Regions from separate parts of the Homo sapiens genome. Here region 2 is linked to region 1. Evidence: fine-mapped expression QTL. Tissue or cell type: thyroid. Region 1 holds a variant in brackets; the other region holds the start of a gene. All regions are shown on one strand. Distances are between the middles of the regions.

Region 1 (8,183 bases):
CCTGGCTAACTTTTAAGTATTTTGTAAAGAAGCAGTCTCGCTCTGTTGCCCAGGCTGGTCTTGAACTCCTGATCGCATGCAGTCCTCTTGCTTCAGTCTCCCAAAGTATTGAGATCACAGGCATGAGTCACTGCACACAGCCTGTTTGGCATTTTGACAATGGCCCAAATTCTCTATTGCCTGCCTGTGGCTAACCCTCCTTGTCTGCTAACCCTCCTTCTTCCAGAGGAGGAAGACACGTGTGGGTCTTCCTCCTCACCTGGTCCAGTTCTCACCTGACCACTTTGCCAAAGCTGACAAGAAACTGCTCCTCAGCACCCAGCTTCCTCCCACAGGCAATAGAGATCTTTCAACAGGGCTGATACCCACTATGGGAATTCAGAAGAAAGCTGGGCAAGTGATAGGACAAGGGAATGAAGCCAAGAGGTGGTAGAAAGTGGGAAAGTGGAAACATCAGGGAAGGATCATGGAGGGAGAGGAAGAACCGTAAAGTCGTTCAGGTAACTGTTGGTGGATGATATGGTCTGTGTAAGAGTTGAAGAAGGAAGAAAGAAGCACAAAAAGTGGCTCAACAGTCAAAGACAGGTTTATGTTAAAGAATAAACCTGAGAGGGGCTTCTGGCCGAATTAGGTCAGGAGCACTCTCTCTTACAGACTAAGAGTTTTTAAGAGGTCAGGTCAAGAGAGCGCATCACAGGCTGGGAATGTTTCTGTGTCTCTTTGTCTTGCTTATCTGGGAGAGAGAGTTTTGTGTCTGTTCCCATACATCTTCCTGCAGGTACAGGCATACCCACTGAGTCTGCTTTTAGCTTTCCTAGCTTAGTGCACCTAAAGGAAAAGGAATGTGCTTATTAGGGCCCACTGTTTTACTGGGGCCCATTGTATGAGTGTGAAGTTTGGTGGTTACCCAAGAGACTTTCCCCCACTCCTTCTGGGCCCGAGCTGTCTTATCTGTGTTTTGCTATCTGCCCTTTCTGGCTTTTTCTTGTTAGAAGAGAAGTGATTTCCTTGAAACGCATGAGGGTAGAAAGGGAGCTAGAACTTAAAATGGCAGTGTTTTTCCAAGAAGACAGTGCTCCTGCTCTGTCAGTTTGGATCTGCATCCCCACCAAATCTCATGTTGAATTGTAATCCCCAGGGTTGGAGGTGGGGCCTGGTAGGAGGTGACTGTACCATAGGGGCAGATTTCCCATGAATGCCTTAGCACCATCCCCCTCGATACTGTCCTCATGATAGTCAGCGAGTTCTTGTGAGATCTAGTTGTTTAAAAGTGTGTGGTACCCACCCCCATCCCCTGCTCCTGCTCCGGCCATTTAAGACGCATCTGCTCCCCCTTTGCCTTCCACCCTGATTGGAAGCTTCCCAAGGCCTCCCCAGAAGCCGAGCAGATGCCAGCATCATGCTTCCTGTACAGCCTGCAGAACCATGAGCCAATTAAACCTGTTTTACTCATAAATTACCCAGTCTCAGGTATTTCTTTATAGTGATGCAAGAACAGACAAATACAGGGGATAAAACACTAGAAAGAATGGGGATGAATGGAAAATGGAGATCTATGACGAAGAAAAATAAAGTGTGTGGTGGTTACAGTTGAAAATAAAAAAAGAAAATGGGTGTAATGTTTGGAGGGGAGGCGTGCAGTGGAGGTGAAGGTGGAAAGGTGGGCTACGGGGCCATTTCAAGGCAGGATTATAAGGTGGGCACCTGAGACAATCAGCCAATGACTGCCATTAGAGGGGCTGTAACAGCTCTTGCCTTCAAGAAAGATGGGATTCAAAAGATGGCTTAAATAAATACAAAAATATATAAAATAAAGTAGACTATTAAACATAATAAGAGAAGTTCAAATAAATCATGGTGGGATCACACAAAAAGGACGTCATGGCATTCAACATTCTGTCCCTTATCTCTGAAGAGTTTTGAGACTGAAATTTGGGGGGTTCTTTTCTTTTTCTTTCTTTCTTTTTTTTTTTTTTCTGAGATGGAGTCTTGCTCTGTCGCGCAATGGCGCAATCTTGGTTCACTGCAACCTCTGCCTCCCAGGTTCAAGCAATTCTCCTGCCTCAGCCTTCCGAGTGGCTGGGATTACAGGTGCCTGCCACCATGCCTGGCTAATTTTTGTATTTTTAGTAGAGACGGGGTTTCACCACATTGGCCAGGCTGGTCTTGAACTCCAGACCTTGTGATCCACCCGCCTTGGCCTTCCAAAGTGCTGGCACTATAGGCATGAGCCACTGCCCCCAGCCTTGGGGGTTCTTTAGTAGAAAGTTACCATGTAAATATATTAAATTACTAAACATCTTCAGCAATCAAAAGAAAATCATGTTATGTTTGATAGCAGAAACTTACCCTGATTTAGGGTCTATTTATAATATTAAATTTATACATTTAGAAACACTTTATCTCATTTTTTTTTTTTGCCTCAAAATCTCTGTTGGTTAAGTAAAGTATGATCTTTATTTTGCAAATGACTGGCCTAATATTATACCTCTTTAAGTGACAAAGCCATTTTCTACTTCTCTTTTTTTCAGTCTTGTGTGTTTTTCTAGATCATTGTTGGCATGCTAAAATCTGGTATTTTCTAGGATGAATCAGTAGCTTTTTTTTATTGTAAAGAGTAGAAACTCTGGCCCTATTTTAACTAATCTTTTCAGTGGTAGGAGGATGAAACAGAAATAAAATATATTGAGGATGGTAAGTAAGAATTATAAGGAATTGGCATTTGGCACTGGTCGTTTCTAAGGAGATTAAAAAGGCATAAACATTAACGAAATGTGATGAACTATTCAGCTCCTAGCATCGTAAATGCTAAATAAATGTTTGTTGAAATAATGAAAGAACGGATGGATGAACTGTAAAAACACAGAAATGAATATAATGATATCTAAAATTATTGAGTATTTACCATATGCCAGGCACTGTTTTAGCCCACTACATGCATCTCATTTTAATCAACACGCTAATTCTCTTACACAGGTACTGCTGTTATTTCCCATTCTGCAGATGAAGAAACTGAAGTACAGAAAGATTAAGTAATTATAGTACTGAGGCCCTGTCCCATTTATAACACTGCAGCAAGTTCCTGATTTCATAAGAGCCCTGTGGCAAGTTACTCAATTTCATAATGCAACTAGCCAGCCATACTCTTCCTAAGCCAGCCAAGCCCAAGCCCATCAATTGGTTGCTTCTGTTTGTGCTGCCACTTGTGGCTGAGTGGACCTGCTCTTGTTCCCTTACCCTTCCACCATCTCTTTCAGCTCTATTTGTGACTTCTTATTCCAAAGGCTGTTGGCACCACTTGGCAACACACCTCTTCAGCCCTAACTGGAGATAAGAATAGGTGGGAAAGGGGCTATTAATTTCAAACATAACATGGAGATCCAGGACTTGGGTTCCAGGCTTCCAGTTCTGCCTTGACTCTCACCTCTGCTTTCTTACCCTTGAAAGCCAAAGCAAAATTCTCTGCGTCTTCTGGCCAGCCATCCTATATTTTATTGACTCTATGACAGCCATTCATTCAGAGATTCTGATGTAATTGCTCTGGTATAAAAAAAGTGCACCCTGTTCACAATAGCAAAGACTTGGAACCAACCCAAATGCCCATCAGTGATAGACTGGATAAAGAAAATGTGGCACATGTATACCATGGAATACTATGCAGCTGTAAAAAATGATGAGTTCATGTCCTTTGCAGGGACATAGATGAAGTTGGAAACCATTATTCTCAGCAAACTAACACAGGGACAGAAAACCAAACACTGCATGTTCTCACTCATAAGTGGGAGTTGAGCATTGAGAACACATAGATACAAGGAGGGGAACGTCACACACTGGGGCCTGTCGGAGGGTGGGGGGCTGGGGGAGGGATAGCATTAGGAGAAATACCTAATGTGGATGACAGGTTGATGGGAGCAGCAAACCACCATGGCACGTGTATACCTGTATAACAAACCTGCACATTCTGCATATGTACCCCAGAAATTAAAGTATAATTTAAAAAAAAGTGCACCATTAAAAAAATTCACCACTAAGAAGGAAAAATAAACATTCTCAATTATAACTGCGTGATGTCATCAACTGAAAAAATATGTCCCCTTTTCAGAGAAGTTAAAACTGAAAAAAAAAGTCACGTTAAACTGGGTGAAATGTGGTCTTTAACGGTGTCTTGATAGATATTTCTAACACGTGGGGGACATTCATAGCCAGCTTTTCCCATGGCCATTACTACTGCCACTTGCAATGTTCTCAATGTTCTGTCCCTCCTTTTGGAACGTGCTGTCAATTGTAGCAGCTGTAGTTATAAGTAGTTATAAACAGTGCTTTTTTTTTTTGAGATGGAGTCTCTGTCACCCAGGCTGGAGTGCAGTGGGACGATCTCAGCTCACTGCAACCTCTG[C/T]CTCCTGGGTTCAAGCAATTCTCCTGTCTCAGCCTCCTGAGTAGCTGGGAATACAGGCGCACACCACCATGCCCAGCTAATTTTTGCATTTTTAGTAGAGACGGGGTTTCACCATACTAGTCAGGCTGGTCTCGAACTCCTGACCTCAGGTGATCCACCCACCTCGGCCTCCCAAAGTGCTGGGATTACAGGCTTGAGCCACTGCGCCCGGCCAGTGGTGCTCTTTTTGATGCAAACCTGTGAAGATTGTATATTTTGGATGTGATGGCTAACACAGAAGGATGCAGTGGCAGAGGATGCTAAAGAGTGGATACAATAGGAAGAGTATGGAATATATCAGAGGATAAGATGTTTAGGGAGGGGGTGCATGTGTCTTTTTAACCACTATGATATAGAATATTTCCATTTCCCTCCTCCTCCAAAAAATGCTCCTTCGTGACCCTCTGCAGTCAATTCCCAGCCCAAGCCCCAGCTCCTGGCAGTCACTAATCTTTCTATCACTATATTTTTAATGCTCCTGAAATTTCATATAAACGGAATCATGTAGTATATAGTATTCTGTGTCTGGAATACTTCACTTAACATACTGTTTTGGGACTTTCCAGGTTGTTGCATATATCAGCTGTTCATTCCTTCTTTATTTCAGAATACAGTTCCTTTGAATGAATGATACTATGGTGCATTTATCCATTCATTAGTTGACATGTATATTTGGGTTGTTTCTCCAACCCAACAAGGAAACATTCAGTCTTTCACCATTACATATGATGGTGACTGTAGGTTTTTGGTAAATGCTCTTTCCTACTTTGCTGCAAGTTTTTATCATGAATGAGTGTTGGATTTTGTCAAATGCTTTTTGTGTGTGTGTCAACTAAGATGGTCACATGATTTTTTTTTGTTAGCCAGTTGATACAGTGGATTACATTGATAAATTTTTAATTAATCAATTTTTGTTTGTTGAGCCACTCTTGCATATCTGGAACAAGTTCTACTTTATGTCCTTGAATAACCAAAGCAATTCTAAGCAAAAAGAACAAATCTGAAAGCATCACATTACCTGATTTCAAATTATACTACAAGGCTATATTAAACAAAATGGCATGGTACTGGTATGAAAGTAGATACATAGACCAATGGAACAGAGTGGAGAAATCAGAAGTAAAGCCAAATACTTACAACCAACTGGTCTTTAACAAAGCATACAAAAACATAAATTGGGGAAAGGACAACCTATTCAATAAAAGGTGCTGGGAAAACTGGATAGCCATATGTAGAAGAATAAAACCGGGTCTCTGTCTCTCACCATATAAAAAAATCAACTCGAGATGGATCAAAGACTTTAAGACCTGAAACTATAAAAATTCTAGAAGAAAACCTAGGAAAACCCCTTCTGGACATTGGCCTAGGAAAATAATTTGTGACTAAGGCCCCAAAAGCAAATGCAATAAATAAATAAATAAATAGGACTGTATTGAAGAAGCTTTTGCATGCCAAAAGAAATAATCATCAGAGTAAACAGACAACCCACAGAATGGGAGAAAATATTTGCAAACGATGCATCCAACAAAGGGCTAATATCCAGAATCTACAAGGAACTCAAACAAACCAGCCAGAAAAATAAATAATCCCATCAAAAAGTAGGCAAATGACATGAATAGACATTTCTCAAAAGAAGATATACAAATGGCCAGCAAATATATGAAGAAATGCTCAACATTACTAATCATTAGGGAAATGCAAATTAAAATCACAAAGAGATACCACCTTACCCCAGCCAGACCACCATTATTAAAAAGTCAGAAAACAGGCCAGGTGCAGTGGCTCAAGCCTGTAATCCCAGCACTTTGGGAGGCTGAGGTGGGCAGATCACCTGATGTCAGGAGTTCGAGACCAGCCTGCCCAACATGGCGAAACCCCATCTCTACTAAAAATACAAGAAATTAGCCGGATGTGGTGGCGGGCGCCTATAATCCCAGCTACTCGGGAGGTTGAGGCAAGAGAATCACTTGAACCCAGGAGGCGGAGGTTGCAGTGAGCTGAGATTGCACCACTGCACTCCGGCCTGGGCAACAAGAGCGACACTCTGACTCAAAAAAAAAAAAAAAAAAAAAAAAACCAAAGTCAGGAAACAATAGATGTTGGCACAGACATGCTAAAAAAGGAAGGTGGGAATGTAAGTTAGTACAACCTCTATGGAAAGTGGTATGGAGACTTCTTAAGGAACAAAAGTAGATCTACCATTTGATCCAGCAATCTGGCTACTGGGTATCTACCCAAAGGAAAAGAAGTCATTCTATCAAGAAGACACCTGCATATATATATTTATCACAGCACAATTCACAATTGCAAAGATATGGAATCAACCAAAGTGCCAATCAACCGATGAGTGGGTAAAGAAAATGTGGTATATATACACCATAGAATCTACTCAGCTGTAAAAAAGTGAAATAATGTCTTTTCAGCAACCTGGATGAAGCTGAAGGCCATTGTTCCAAGAGAAGTAACTCAGGAATGGAAAATCAAACACAGTATATTCTCACTTGTAAGTGGGAGCTAAGCTATGGGTATGCAAAGTCATGCACACTGGTATAATAGACTTTAGAGATTCAGAAGGAAGGAGGGTGGGAGGGCGGTGGGGGATAAAAAACTGCATATTCAGTACAATGTACAGGACTTGGGTGACAGGCACACTAAAATCTTAGACTTCACCACTCTACAATTCATCTGTGTAACCAAAACCACTTGTACTCCAAAAGCTATGGAAAGAAAAAAATCCTACCTTTTCATGGTGTATAATGATTTTTATACATTGTTGGATTCAAGTTGCTAATATTCGGTTGAGGAATTTTGTGTCTAAGTTCATAAGTGATATTGGTCTATAGTTTTATTTTTCTGTAATGTGTTTGTTAGGTTTTGGTTTCTGGGAAACTGGCCTCATAAAAATTAGTTGGGAAGTACTCCCTCTTATATTTTCTGGAAGAACTGCAAAATTGGTGTTACTACTTTAAATATATGATAAGTCTCCAGTGAAACTCTCAGGACTTGGAGATTTCTATTTCCACCCCACAGGGTTTTGTTTGTTTGCTTGTTTGTTTGTTTGAGACAGAATCTCTCTCTGTTGCCCAGGCTGGAGTACAGTGGTGCACTCTCAGCTCACTGAAACCTCCGCCTCGCAGGTTCAAGTGGTTCTCCCACCTCTGTCTCCCGAGTAGCTGGGACAAGTGTGTACTACTGTGCTTAGCTTAGTTCAAAATACTTACTAATTTCCAGCCTGGGCAATGTGACGAAACCCTATCTCTACAAAAAATAAAAACAAAATGAGCCGAGTGTGGTGGCACATGACCATGGCACAAGCTATTTTGGGGACTAAGGTGTGAGGATCACTTGAGCTCAGGAGGTGGAGGCTGCAGCAAGCCATGATCATGCCACTGCACTCCAGCCTGGGTGACAGCAAGACCCTGTCTAAAAAAATGAAACTTGCTAATTTCCCTTGTGATTACTTTTTTGATCCTATGGATTATTTGTAACCGTACTGTTTAATTTCCAAATACTGGAGTTTTCTAGATATTTTTCTGCTATTTCTAGTTTAATTCATTGTTGTCAAAGAACATACACCGTATATTTTTAATTATTTGAAATTTATTGAGAATTGTTTAATGCTTCAGAATATGATCTTAGTGCATGTTCCAAATGGACTTTAAAAAGAGTATGTATTCTGATGTTTGGGGCAGAATGTTATATAAATTTCAATTGGGTCATGCTAATTGATAATGTACAAGTCTTATAT
Region 2 (8,183 bases), 40 kb before region 1:
TCTGTCTCTACTAAAAATACAAAAAATTAGCCAAGCGTGGTGGCAGGTGCTTGTAATCCCAGCTACTCAGGAGGCTGAGGCAGGAGAATCGCCTGAACCTGGGAGGCAGGGGTTGCAGTGAGCCGAGATCATGCCATTGCACTCCAGCCTGGATAAAAAGAGTGAACCTCCGTCTCAAAAAAAAAAAAAAAAAAAAAAGAATTCCAACTGACCAAGTTTAGGGGACTGGAAAGACTAGAATCCAAGAATATTCTCTTTCTGGGCCACAGCATTTCACTTGATTATTAACCTTTTGGCTCCTAGCTCTCTTAACAGTAAACAGGTACTGGGAGCAGTGCTGGCCCCAGTGATATTCTTTCCCTCAGCAGAAAGATCTATGTGCTATCAATGATCGCTCATGTAAGAAATGCTGACATTTCCCTCCTATTTTTCCTCTTAAAGTATATATTAATATTTGACTTCTTCCCAATGCATCCCGACCCACCCTTTCTATCCCTCAAAGCAAAACCAGAGAGATCCTGGCGAGAGCTTCGTTTGAAGGCTGACCCACACCGGGTCTGAGCAGCAGTCCTGCTACCTGAAGTCCCCCTTGATGGGGTAATTGTGGCTTTGCTTGTAATCGTTCTCGCTCTGACCTCTCTCATGTTCTGCTTCCTTGCTGTGCAGTGCTGTGCCCTCACCCTGCTACCTGGGATTGCAGAGGTCCAAGATGGACAAGGTTGAGGCCCAACGCCACCATCTACTCTCCACCCTGACCTTATGGGTACTTCACTCTTAGAGGCAAAATCTTACGTGGTTTCATTTTTGGCTGATTGTGTGCAAATAAAAAACTGCACATCCAAAGTCTTTCCTGTACAGTATTTGCACCAACACTGCACATGGAAAAGGTGGCAATGTTTGTGGCTACCTACCCACCCATCATGCAGCTACACTTGCTGGAAAGTCTCAGAAATGCTGTTTTAGCTCTGCTCATCCCTGACGTGAGCTGGGAACAAGGATGGTAAGAGGAAAGCATGCTGTTCCCCCTGTCCCAAAATGCTGGTGTGAAAGGAGCACAAAGTCAGGAAAATGAGGAGCTGCTTGATGATAACTAGCACTATCAAGAGCTGGTTAGGCAGACAGTCACACTTTTATTTTCCTTATGCTTTTTGACTGTAGATTTAATTTAATTTTGTCATGGCAGGATTAGCAACTGGGCCACAGAGGTGAAGGGACATTATAAGACAGCACATTAATCCTCTATCCCACCCAAGGCAGAAGCAAAACCAAACAAATAGCAGCTTCCTGGAAATTGAATTTCTGTTATCCAGATGTCAAAGATGTAATACCCCAATTACACAAACTATTGCCAGTGAAGCATGCCAACGAATATGCAATGTAAATGGGGTGAGCGCAGAGCCACAAAACTGCACAGTCAGCATCTGGCTCTGTGAGTGAGTGATAATTAGCACTGTGTGTAGACACTAATAAACATTTATGTCTGAAATTACAACTTTTAGCAATGTTAATAAGGGATATATTGGCAATCTGTAAAATAAAAGGTCTTGAAAAGAATGTCATACATTAAGCAATGGCAGACATTTCCCGTTCCTGAACAATTTCCTTTTTTCCCCCTAATTGCAAATGGTCACGATGTTTTGCTGAGGTATTAATTGACATAGGAACCTACCTAAAAAAATGGGCTGTGTCTCTTTGGCCTCCCCATTAACATCGTTGCTGAATTCTGGGATCTTATACACCTCGTGGTGATAATCTGGCATGAGAAAACAACCAAAAATTAGAATCCTAAGGACCTCAAGATAGGAATAAGCAGTCAAGTCTAGAATCTCATTCTATTTAGTTTGTATACTCTATAATTTATAAATAAACTTTTTGAGAACTGAAATAATCACAGAATTTGTAGTCAATAATAATTCCTAAAACTTTGCTTATTCTGGAGTACGCAAACTTGAAAGATTACTTTGGCTTTAGAAGACAGCTTTGCTTGATCACACCATGTTCACGGTAAATTGTACCCACAGATGCCAATTTTTAGGCTTTTTTTCTTTGAGGTGGCAAGTATGTTTGCCCAATCATAGAGCAGGGGAGGTTTCCAAATTTCTCTTCACAACCCATTTTCACCAGCATATCAACAGTATGCTTTAAAGTTTAGCCAGCACTCTAGTTTTCTCAGTTTACCCAGAAAATCTCAGCCTTTAAGCAGCTTAAAGGCAAGCACACATGAAAAATACTGATTTGTTATTTCAAATGTAGTATGATTTGGATAAGAAAGCAAGATTTTCATCTTTCACACAAGTGACTCTTTCGCATTCAGCTACTGCACTTTATTTAATATGCAAGTTTATTTTCTAAAACTGCACCTGCAGAGAAAGAGAAGAATCAGACCTATAATTAAAAGAAAAAGAAAAAAGGAAAAAGGAAAAACTTGCTACGTCAGTCAAAGTTTCAAATACAGTATTTTACAAGCTTCTCTATGGAGGCTACTGCATTTTTGCTTCTATTTTTGAAAAGCAGGGTCACTAAGGCATGAAAATAGAGGTTCCTCCTTAACACCTAGTCCCCTTTCTCTGGCCTTAGACCTCACAGGACAAAGTCAACAAAACTACTCTCACTTTTAAGATAAAGCAGTTAAGTTCTCTGAGGTCATCAATAAGAAAGCAGCTTACATTCCTGAATGAATCAGATAGCACCAACAGGGCAATCACCCAGACAGAGACTTTTAAAAGTCCAAGTAACTGAGTAATCAACACGGATGTGGAAAAAAAAATTTACTCAGAAAGTGGGAAGAGCCAAGTATTTTGAATGCGTGAAACTATTTCAGGCCTCTTTCATTAAACAGTATCCAAACTAAATTAGGGGAGGCAGATAAGAATGGATCTTCAAAATGCCTATAATCAAAGCATTTTCAGATGAACCAAATCCACATCTTAGCTAGCTTAGCTCAGTTTGAAAAATTCGATTACTTGCAATTGTCCACGATTTTTTCACTAATTTTCATCAGTTTACACGTGACTTCTGCAGGTTGTTGGAGTTTCTACCCTGATGCCAATGCTAGAGAAAACGACAGAGGAAAAGTGGACAGGTTGGGGTTTGGCTTTGACCTCAACTTGATTAAAAGACGACATTTAAACAGAGCGGGTCTAAACTCAATATGAGGACTTGTGACATTACAATGAAAAAAGTCACCTGCCCCTAATTAAAGATGACAATGCATTTTGAGATATATTTTCACGATGGCTCTTGAGTTATCATTTTTTTAAAAAAAAAAGTCAAATCAGGAAGATAAAGACTCTTAACAAGTAACTGAACACAGACAAGACTGTATTCCACTTTCCCCTCCCTGACAAAATACAAACCCTAGAGTGTGGTGTACACCTGTTAATTCGTCAGAAACTAGATGGATTTCTTTTCTTTCTTTTCTTTTTTCTTTTTTTTAAAGGATGCTTATCTGACTGCTATATGATCTAGTCTAAAACACCTTTCCAACCCAAATCAGCTAGCTAGAGATGTTGGATGTCAACAATTCCGCCTTGGGCTTGGACACGGCGTGAGCTTCTTTCTCCTTCTTAAAAAGAACAACAACGGTCATCCTTTTTCCTCCTTCTCTTGGCGGGGGGAAGGGGGAAGACCCCAGAAAACAAAAACAGCAAATCTCAGGTCCGAGGGTCCACGCTCGGCCTGATGGCCAGGCAGGTCCGCGGCCGCCCCAGCCCTGCCCCGGAGGCGCCCCGAGGAGGGCTCGGGCCCCCCGGTGTCATTGTTTGCTAATTTCCTGAGCTGCCCTCCGACTTGTTTACGTTAAATAACATCCCTGCTCCCCCCGCACAACTTTCCCCGCCGCCCGGCGTGTGCGGCCGCGGCCCTGCCTGCCAGCCCGGCGGAGGCACCGGGGGACCGGGAAGGACCGGGGGCTCCGGGAGGGCGCGCCCCCCAGCGTGGACCCCCGCGGGCGGCCGAGGGCGCGGCGCCCGCTGCCTGCCCCCGCCGCCCCGGCGGCCGCTTACCTCGGCTCACCAGTTTGAAGCTCTGGGATTTCCTGCTTCTTTTCCTCTCGGAGAACTCCATGGTGCGGGGAAGGCGGCGGCGGGGGCTGAGGAGGCGGCGGCAGCGGCGGCAGCGGCAGCGGCGGCAGCGGCAGCGGCGGCGCGGGCTCGTGTCACCGCGGCGGAGCCGCCGGGACCAAGGTCCGCGCCTGGAGTCGGCGAGGGGAGGCCGCGGGACGGGAGGAACCACCGCGAGCCGGCTCGGGGCTGCAGGCGCGGGGCCCGGCGGCGTGGGCTCCCGGGCGAAGTTGCCCCCGCGCGGCGCCGCCTCCCGGTGCCCTAGGCGCCCCCGCGGCCCCCGCTCATGCCGGCCCGCGGGTTCCAGACGCCGCCCGCCGCAGCCCAACTTTCCGTTGGGAGCGGGCCGGGCCGGGGCGCGGCGGCGGCGGCGGAGGCGGGGGGCGGCTCGGGGCGGCCGGCCCGCCTGGGCTCAGCCTGCGGTCGCGGCGGCGGCGGCGGCGGCCCCGAAGACGCGGCGGGCGGGCTGCGGGGAGGGCGGCGGCGGGTGCAGAGCCGGCCGGGGCGCTGACCGCCCCCGCGGGAGGAGGGGCGCCGGCGGAGGGGGCGGTGCCGCTGGGACCCCAGGGCCACCTGCTGGCGGAGCCCGGCCGCCGCCATCCCCGGGGGCCGCCGCCGGCCTGGCCGCGCGGCGCCCCGAGGAGGCGCGGAGGCCGCGGCGCAGCGCCCTGGCCCGGGCCCGGCCGGCCTGCCTGCCCCCGGGGACGACGCCGCCGCCCGGGCCTCCGCTCGCAGACCCCGCTCGCTGGCCTCCCTCCGCCGCTTGCTGGGCCGAGCTAACTCCGTGCACCTCGCCGTGGGGGCGCGGACCGCCCCGACAACCACCTCCCCGCCCTCACATCCCGGGCGCCCCGGGGCCCGACGCGCTGATTTTAAGCAAGTTTTAGGGGGAAAAAACTTACCCATTTGCGCTCTCTCTAGAAGGACAGAGAGGAGGTTTTAGAATATTGTGGAGAAGAATATAGTAGAGAGCTCCCATTCCCTAACCCAGGCTGGGCGGATTGTGGAAAGAGCCGAGTCACATTCAAGGAGAGCACTTGGAATGGGGGGCTTGGTGGCCCTGGGGACTCTCAGGAGGCCATGGTCAAGGCAGGTGCAGGGCACTATGCTTCTCCACGTCATATGTCGGAATCATGGACCCAAACACAAAGCGCTTAGTAGTTATGTGTAATATTCTTTTCGGGGGATCAGAGAGCGCACTTCAGGCACCATTTCTTTCTCACATCTTTCGAGTGGGCCAGGAAAAGAATTTCACACTACCTGGGAATGGTAGGACAGGAACATGACGGGACATGCGTGAAAGTATCTGCCAAACCCAACCAGGAAGAGGGTAAAGAGTCGGGGGATGGGGGGGCTACCTCTCCGGCACGGGACAAAGGCCAGTGGCCCCAAAAGAGTAGAGAGGAAAAAGGGGAGGTTGACAAATGTGATGAGTGTCACGTGGGTCTCACCCAAATGAGGCAGCCGCTGAGGAACCGCTCTTATTTCAGGGACACAGAGTAGGACAACTGCCGAGGAAGGGGGACATTGAGGCAGCTTGCAGAAACACACATGGAGAAACAGAACCAAAGAGCAGGGTAACCAGCAAACCAGGCAGTGGAGGCAGGGATGGGTACCCATCCCGAGATCTTGGGTGATACCAAAGGCGGCACATCCGGAAGGCTGGTTATACCTAGCGTGGAGGGGAGAGGGAGAACTGTTTCTTCCGTTCAATAAAGCAAACCCTTCAACAAGAGGTTCTTAACCTTTTTTAGTCACTGTTTCCTTTGAGATTGTGTTCAAAGCTCAAGGGCCCTTTTTCCCAGAAAATATGTATGGGACATATAAAATTTAGTATAGATTTATTGGAGTTCTTAGACGCGCTTTGCTGCTCTCAGAAAATTAGTGGTAACAGTGATTAAAGCAACTACCCTATTTGGGTTTCTTCCTTCCCTGCCACCCCTTTCTTTAAAATCAGGCATTAAAATCTGAAGATGTTTTGGATTTTTTTTTATTTTTTATTTTTTGAGACAGAGTCTCATTCTGTCGCCCAGGATGGAGTGCAGTGGTGCGATCTCAGCTTACTGCAACCTCCACCTCCCGGGTTCAAGCGATTTTCCTGCCTCAGCCTCCCAAGTAGCTAGGATTACAGGCATGGGCCACCACGCCCAGCTAATTTTTTGTATTTTAGTAGAGATGGGGTTTCGCCATGTTGGCCAGGCTGGTTTCAAACTCCTGACCTCAAGTGATCAGCCCGCCTAGGCCTCCCAAAGTGCTGGGATTACAGGCGTGAACCACCACGTCCGGCTGTTTTGGATGTTTTTAAAGAAACAAAGCATGCAATTTTGTTCCCCAGGCTGGGATCCATTCTTTCTTTATGTAATGCCTTTTAAAATGTTATTCTCAAAGCCGTAAGGCTAAGTTCTACACTGACTGAGGAACTTCCCGGATCGTTCATGCTTTGGAGCATATAATGAGATTTTATTATGCTTAAACTATGACGAACCCAGTGAAGGTGTCATCCCAAGAAGTAAATCCCTGGAGAAGGTATTAACAACTTAGCATTTTCAGTTCAAGTGGGAATGCAAATTCCATTTACTGAAGAGAATATTTTTGATATAGTTAAGAATAAAATATTTGAGTAAGAATATTTTTAAATAGTAGTCATTTCTCCTTGACCCTTTTTAACCTGGCTTTCCAAAGTTGGTCTATGAGTGAGTTGGCCTGCAGAGGACACAGGCTACGCTTGTCTTATTAGCTTTTAGAGAAAATAAATGTCTGTTTACTCTGCATTTTGTGCAAATCACTATGCTCTTATCTAACAAAAATGTATATATCACATTTAGTATTAAAATTAATAATAATGTTTAATTAAAATGAGGTTGCTTGGGGCCAGGTGTAGTGGCTCACACCTGTAATCCCAACATTTTGGGATACAGAAGGATTGCTTAAGGCCAGAAATTCAAGACCAACCTGGATAACATCCTGAGACCCGGTCTCTACCAAAAAATTAAAATATAAAATAAAACATAAAGTGAGATTGCTTTAAGTAGCAGGTATCCATATAGTAGCTGATCCTTATCCTTGGGGAGTATGTCCAAGACCTTCAGTGGATGTCTGAACCTGAGGATAGTACCGAACCCCGTATATACTATGTTACCATCAAACCCCATATATACCGTGTTTTTTATTGTTTTATGTTTTCTAATAACCAAGCCAACAAGTGACTAACGAGCAGATAGTGCAGACAATGTGAATACGCTAGGCTAAAGAATGATTCCTATTCTGGGCCGGAAGGAGCAGGTTGGCTAAAGATTTCATCATGCCACTCAAAATGGGGCACAATTTTAAATTGATGCATTGTTTATTTCTGGAAGTTTCCATTCAATATTTGCAGGCCATAGGTGACTGCAGGTAACTGAAATCATGGATAAAGGGGGACTACTGTATTAGCCTGTTCGGGCTATCTTAACAAATACCACATACTGGGTGACTTAACAGCAGCTTATTTTCTTACCATTCTAAAGGCTGCAAGTTTCAGATCTAGGTCTGGCAGGGTCAGTTTCTGGCGAGGGCCCTTTTCTTAGCTTGCACACCACTACACTTACATGGCATAGGAAGAGAGCTGTCTTTCTCTCCCTCTTCTTGTAAGGCCACCAATCTTATCAAATTAGGGCTCCGCCTTTATGATCTCTTTTAACCTTAATTACCTTCTATTAAAGGTTCAATCTCCAGATACAGTCACGTTAGGAGTCAGGGATTCAACATATGAGTTTGTGGGGGACACAAATCAGTCTGTAGCCATCTTGTTTTCACTCAAATATAATGTCTGTATTGAGGGGTCCTGGAAAGTTTTCTAGGGGATCTACTGAAGTCATTTCTTTACCCCATTCTTTCCAATTTTAGTATATGTGCTGCCGAAGCTAGCACTCTTTGCCTCATTCTTAAAGGCCCCCTAAAGTTCCAGAACCACAGGTTTATGTGTTACTGGAGATCAGAGATAATTGGTCAAATATTCAATGACATCACGCAGGGCAAACATTTTATTATATGGCCATGCTTAAACCCACTTGATTATAAAGATTACATGTTGGTTTCAATCTTTGACAAAGCCAGATAATTTGGCCAGAAAACCTGAAGTAA

Alleles and levels. Alleles are on the strand shown, and positions count from the first base shown. SD is a standard deviation of normalised expression in the study named.
As copies of T replace C in region 1, the expression in thyroid of the gene that starts at base 4,546 in region 2 goes up (moderate effect, 0.70 SD a copy in GTEx).

What was found. PIP is the estimated chance that this variant, and not a neighbour inherited with it, causes the effect.
Region 2: BEND7 starts here. The variant in region 1 is fine-mapped to the expression of BEND7 in thyroid (GTEx, PIP above 0.99).

Annotation. Positions count from the first base shown.
Region 1 is chr10:13,564,085-13,572,267 of GRCh38, forward strand. No RefSeq gene overlaps it. Among named protein-coding and RNA genes, the nearest start is that of PRPF18, 19 kb to the right of the region's middle. The variant C/T (reference allele first, on the strand shown) is at 4,397.
Region 2 is chr10:13,524,469-13,532,651 of GRCh38, forward strand. It overlaps BEND7 (BEN domain containing 7), which reads right to left and starts at 4,546. Exons shown (of 9, transcript NM_001369863.1): 1 at 4,005-4,546; 2 at 1,670-1,753. The coding sequence starts at 4,065. BEND7-DT (BEND7 divergent transcript) reads left to right here and starts at 4,136. Exons shown (of 2, transcript XR_930674.3): 1 at 4,136-4,184; 2 at 5,552-5,796.